Linked DNA regions of Homo sapiens: region 2 is linked to region 1. Evidence: fine-mapped expression QTL. A gene starts in region 1. The other region holds a variant in brackets. All regions are shown on one strand. Distances are from middle to middle.

The links. PIP is the estimated chance that this variant, and not a neighbour inherited with it, causes the effect.
Region 2: its variant is fine-mapped to the expression of ZNF185 in whole blood (TOPMed, PIP above 0.99).

Annotation. Positions count from the first base shown.
Region 1 is chrX:152,896,637-152,899,536 of GRCh38, reverse strand. ZNF185 (zinc finger protein 185 with LIM domain) reads right to left here and starts at 1,470. Exons shown (of 25, transcript NM_001395254.1): 1 at 1,299-1,470. RefSeq lists an enhancer at 1,718-2,218.
Region 2 is chrX:152,922,142-152,925,041 of GRCh38, reverse strand. ZNF185 (zinc finger protein 185 with LIM domain) reads right to left here. Exons shown (of 25, transcript NM_001395254.1): 11 at 2,786-2,869; 12 at 2,233-2,322. Among named protein-coding and RNA genes, the nearest start is that of ZNF185, 26 kb to the right of the region's middle. The variant G/T (reference allele first, on the strand shown) is at 1,423.

The DNA.
Region 1 (2,900 bases):
CCAGCCAGGGGCTGGGAATTGCTGGAAGGAGGGGCAGGTGAGAGGGATCTGTTCCTTCCCATCCTGAAGTGGCCTGGGAGCGATGAGGGGAACAGCGGAGGCACCAAGGCCTGCCAGAAGGCTGGCCCCTCATCTGTGCATCTGTGTCTTGGCCACTTGCTGGCCTCTGAGCTGCCCCTTGTTTTTCAGATGAGGAGCGGAGGCCCTGGGAAGGCAGGACCTCTGCAGCTCTGTTCAGGCCTATCAACCTGTGCACCCCTGCCTCCCGCCCCCAGCCAGGTACGACAGCCAGAAGTCTGAAGGGCCATGAGACCAAGGCAGGACTTAGTCCAGGTACTGAAGCCTCAAGCACTGCTGGATGGGGTGTGAGAGGCCCTCTCTCGGGGCTCACAGCTTTGGGGCCTCCCATGATGCCAAGGCTTCGTGCCGACGGCTCAGCAAGAACACAACTCCTACCATGCCTCAGATGTCCCAAAGCCGGGACACACCCACCACCTACTTTATCTGAGTCCCCAGCAGCCCTGGGTGGGAGGCAGCTTGACGTGTCACCCCCTTAAACCGACAGAGTACCCAGGTGTCCCCAGCTCAGAAGTGGCAGATCAGGCAGGAGCACCTGAGCTTTCGGCCTTTTTGTAAGGCAAGGTATCCCTCTGCCTTTCCAAAGAGGACAGACTCTTGGCTCCCTCTGCCCCCATCAAAACAATCCAGCCACAGAGCTGGTGCAGTGCCGATCCTGTCGATAACACCCAGTGACACCTGATTCGGCGCCTTCTGTCTGAGTGTGAGCAGCCACCATCCTCATGGCCCTCCCCAAGATTGCCCTGTACCCAGCACATGCACCTCACAGGCCCCAGGGCGATTGAGGGGATCCTCTGGGTGAGCCAGCCTCTGGGTCTCAGTTTCCTCATCTATAAAATGGGCACAGGGGGACGGAGGGATATGAGATTCCCTGATTCTTAAAGGCCTGCAGTCAACTCTCAGAGCATCCTGGCCCCTCGCCGTTTACTAACAATTAAACCGTGTCTTTCCTAAAGGGCAAGACAGAGGGATCAGGCTGGCAAGGGGGACACTTGCCTCTGTAGGGGACGCTGGCCTCCTCTGCCTGTCAGTCTTTTCACTCACAGCGAAAACCAGAAATCCACTGACTCCCGGGGGGAACCCGAAGAGAGATGCTTGGAGCTGGTAAGGGTTATGGATGGGGAAACTGAGGCCCTGACTTGTCCCCAGCTGGGCACGGACTGGGTGCCCCCCACTGCCTCCAAGCAGGGCCGCATCCAATGGCGACTCGACAGCCCTACCTGGCACCGGTGCCCGGCTCGTGGGGCGGGTGGAGGGTCGGGCAGTCGCAGGGCGCGGGCTCCCTCGGGTGGACGGCGCCCGGCCGGGCCGGGCCGGGCCGGGGAGGCAGGCGCGGGGCGCGGGGCGCGGTGCACAGCGGGGAGCGCGCAGGGAGGCGAGGAGGCGCGGACTGGGCTCCGCCCGCAGGAGAACAAACAGGTTTTCTCCGGCCGCCCGGAGCCTCGCCCCTCGCCCCTCCCCTCGGCCGGCCCCTTCCTCTGCCCCTCCTGGGGTAGGTAGAGGCGCCTGGCACATTCCGCACATTCTCCCGCCAGCGTCCTCCGCCCGCCCGCCCCTTCTCGGCCCCGCCCCGCGGGGCTGCTGGAGAAATCAAGTCTGGGGCTCCCCTTGTCGAGCACGGGGCGAGCTCCAGAAGGCTCTGCCGTGATGGAAAACTTCCAGGCAAATTCCTCCGGGCCCGTGGCCCCCAGGCCGGGAAGCCTCCGCCACGTGAAGGGCCCCCGCTCCTAGTTGCGCGATCTGGCCCCGGCACAGGGCCAACGACTTCCACAGATGCTGTCGGGTTAATTCAGTCGAGAACTACCGTTCCTAGATCCATTTTACAGATGGAGATCCCAGACAGGGGCGGGGAGGGGGGCGGGGGGCTGGCGGCTGAGATCATCCAGGAAGTCCTGCAGGCAGGAAAGGAGGAGAAGAGTGAGGGAGCCGCTCATCGTGGAAGGCCATCCTGGGACGGACCCGGGGCTCACAAGGCACAGCAAACGGGGCTATCTCCCAGGCTGGGCGACGAGATACAGCCAGACTCCCAGAGCCAATGCGGTTTGATGTACCTGTGTCACGCGTTGGTGCTCACCGAGTGCTTTATTGTGTGCAAGGCCCTGGGCTGGGGCTAAGGATGGAGAGAGCATGGAGGAAAGACCCCTCACCCCACGGCCTCCCAAACAGGGAGACAATTAAGCCAGCCCAAGAAATGGCATGGACTTGGCCAGGAGTTGGCCTACCAGGGTGGTAGGCTCAAAAGAATGGACCAGCTGCTTCTCCTTCATCAAGGCCTGCCAATGTGGTGTTTCCATGGCCCTCCAGTCCACCCACTTCTCCCTGTGCCTGCTGCCACCACCCTAGTCCAGACCTGGCCCCGAAGACCAGCCTCCTTGCTGGTGTCCCCCTGCCTCTGGTCTTGCCTTCCTTTCCCTCAGTCTCTACACGGAGGTCAGGTTAAAAGTTCACGTGTGTCAATATGATCAGGTGCTCTCCTGCTTGCAACTCCTCCATGGCTTCCCATTGCTCTCAGGGTAAAAGCCAGACTCCTTGAGACGACCTATCCCTGCAGGTCCAGCCACTCTTCCCTTTGTTCAATACATTACAGCCACACTGGCCTTTTTCCATTGCCTTCTGAATACATCACATGGCGCTCACCTTGGGGTGTTTGCTCCTGCTCCTCGGACTCCCTAAAATGCTCTTCATCCCCGTCGGGCTAGTGAGCTCTTAGTCATTCTTCAAGCCTCCACCCAGTGTCCGGAAAGCCTCCCCTGCCTGCCACCCAGTCGAGCTGATCACTTCCTTCTGTGCACCCCTTAGTTCCCTCAGATGACATCAATCCA
Region 2 (2,900 bases), 26 kb before region 1:
GGATTACGGGCATGAGCCACCATGCCCAGCCTCCTATATTATCTTCTAAAAGGCACCTGAGGCCAAGCGCGGTGGCTCACGCCTGTAATCCCAGCACTTTGGGAGCCTGAGGTGGGCAGATCACAAGGTCAGCAGTTTGAGACCAGCCTGGCCAATATGGTGAAACCCGTCTCTACTAAAAATACAAAAATTAGCCGGGCGTGGTCGCGTGCACCTGTAATCCCAGCTACTCGGGAGGCTGAGGCAGAAGAATCGCTTGAACCCGGGAGGCGGAGGCTGCGGTGAGCCGAGATCACACCACTGTACTCGACAGAGCCTGGGCGACAGAGCGAGACTCCATCTCAAAAACAAACAAAACAAACAAACGAACAAACAGAAAGGCACCTGAAACCATTTATTGCCTTTCTTTAAAAGAGAAATAAGGAGAAATGAGAACTGTATACTGTTATGGGCTGACTTGTGCCACCCAAAATTCATATGTTGAGGTCTTAACTCCCCCATGACCTCAGAATGTTACTGCATTTGGAGATGGGGCCTTTAAAGAAGTGACTAAGTTAAAATACAGTTGTTAGGGTGGGCCCTAATCCAGTTGGACCAATGTCCTTATAAGAAGTGATTAGGGTCTGGGCGCGGTGGCTCATGCCTGCAATCCCAGCACTTTGGGAGGCTAAGGCAGGAGGATCATTTGAGTCCTAGAGTTCCAGACCAGCCTGGGCAACATGGTGAAACCCTGTCTCTACAAAAATTTAAAAAAAAAAAACTAGCTGGGTATGGTGGCCTGTGACTGTAGCCCCAGCTACTCAGGAGGCTAAGGCTGGAGGCTCTCTTGAGCCTGGAAGGTCGAGGCTGCAGTGAGTGGTGACTGTGCCACTGCACTCCAGCCTGGGCGACGGAGTGAGACTCTGTCTCAAAAAAACAGAAGTGATTAGGACGCAGGCACACACAGACAGGGATGAGCATATAAGGGCCCAGGGAGAAGATGGAGTCTACCAGCCAAGGAGAGAGACTCAAGAGGAACCAACCTTGCCGTCACCTTGATCTCACACTTCTAGCCTCCAGAAGTGGGAGATGATACGTTTCTGTGGTTTAAGCGCCCCAGGGTGTGGTACAATACTTTGTTGTGGCAGCCTTTGCCCCCATATCCCTCAATTGCCAAGTCCCCTAGATCAGGGGTCCCCAACCCCAGCCTGAGGATCAGTACCAGTCTGTGGTCTGCTGGGAATCAGGCTGCACAGTAGGAGGTAAGCTAGAGATCATTACTGCCTTAGCTCCGCCTCCTGTCAGATCAGCAGATTCTCATGAGAGCGCGAACCGTATTGTGAACTGCACATGTGAGAGATCTAGATTGTGCGCTCCTTATGAGAATCCGGTGCTTGATGATCTAAGGTGGAACAGTTTCATCCTGAAACCATCCCCTGCTCC[G/T]TCCCGTGGAAAAAGTGTCTTTCACGAAACCAATCCCTGGTGCCAAAAAGACTGGGGAGCTCTGCCCTAGATATTGCCTTGTAAAGAATTCTCAAATCTTCCTTTCCACATCTTCTATGGACCAAAGTTCTTATGGGGAGAGTCAGACAACCAGAGAAGATCAAGAGAGGGAGAGAGTGAAAAGGAGAAGCACCCTGGCAGTCTGCTGCCTGGGGCCATGGAGGGAGCTGGCCTCATGCTCCTGGCTCCCTCTGCCAGCATTTCTGTCTCCCTCCCAGACTGAGGAAGTAACCCTGAGGACAGTGGTCACCTGTCTATAAATGGCTGTGGAGCTCAAATTGGGGGATTGCTATGGTATTAGGAGAGCCTGAACAGCCCTTGGGGGCCTGGGAAGTGACCGGTAGGGACAGGCCCTCTCCCCTTCTGGATGCAGGGGTCTTCCAAGGGTGCTACAGAGATGCAGCTCTTAGGAGACCTAGATTTGAGCAAAGGTCTCAATCCAGGCAGGCACTTTAAACAGCAGCAACAGCAGGTGGTGGCTCTCCCTGCAGGACTTAGCACCATTCTGCACAAAGTACAAGAAGGTATTAGTTGTCCACAGACAAGAGAGCACCATTATCTGCCCAGATTCTCAGGGATCAGAAATCAAGACAAATCACGGCCCTTCCTGGAGTGAGATCACCAGTGCTCAGCCTGTCCTTGCCCCATCACCCCACTGCCAGACCCTCCCCAGCTGGCAGAACCAGCCAGCCAGGCTGGCGGGAAGCCATCACACCCACTCACAAGCCAGAGTCAGCTCTCGGCACCCACCTGAGCTCCTGGCTCCCAGCGGGGCTAGGCATACTTGGCAGGCACTCGATCCAAATTGCCCGAGACGCTTTGGTCCTGCCTCCATCCGCACTGGCAAAGAAGGTGGCTGTGAGAGGCTCTGGAGATGTCAGAGCCTCCTCCCTGGGCATGCTGAATGTGGCTAACTTATTGGAGTGCAAGGAGCAAGTCTGACAATGGCATGCTACTGCCATGGTGGCTGGCCCTCTCAAACCCCAAGGATGGTACTTTTTCTTGGGGTGTTCAAGTTGCCACCAGGCTCAGTGGTGCAAGGGTTAAGGTGACACAGATACGTACTCATCAGACCAGAGCCAGGTGCTCTCTCCCGGGGGGCTGGACTGTTTTGCTCCTTTCAGCCCTGGGACATCCAGCCAGATGGGCTCTTACTGATTTCTTTGTCCCGTCTTGTCACTGGGCACATGGGGACACTGATCTCGAAGCCCAGCATGGAGGTGCCCTGACTGAGGTTCCTCAGTGACTGAGTGGCAGGTATGGCAGCCACCAGCCCCAGGCAGAGATGAGCGCAATGGATTACCTGTTTGAGCCAGGAGTGGATCTTGCCAGAGCAGGTGGGTCCTGGCTCTTCTCAGAAGGCCCGTCCTCTTCCACCACCTCCACCCTTTGAGCAAGAAGAGAAACAGCGCTCGTGG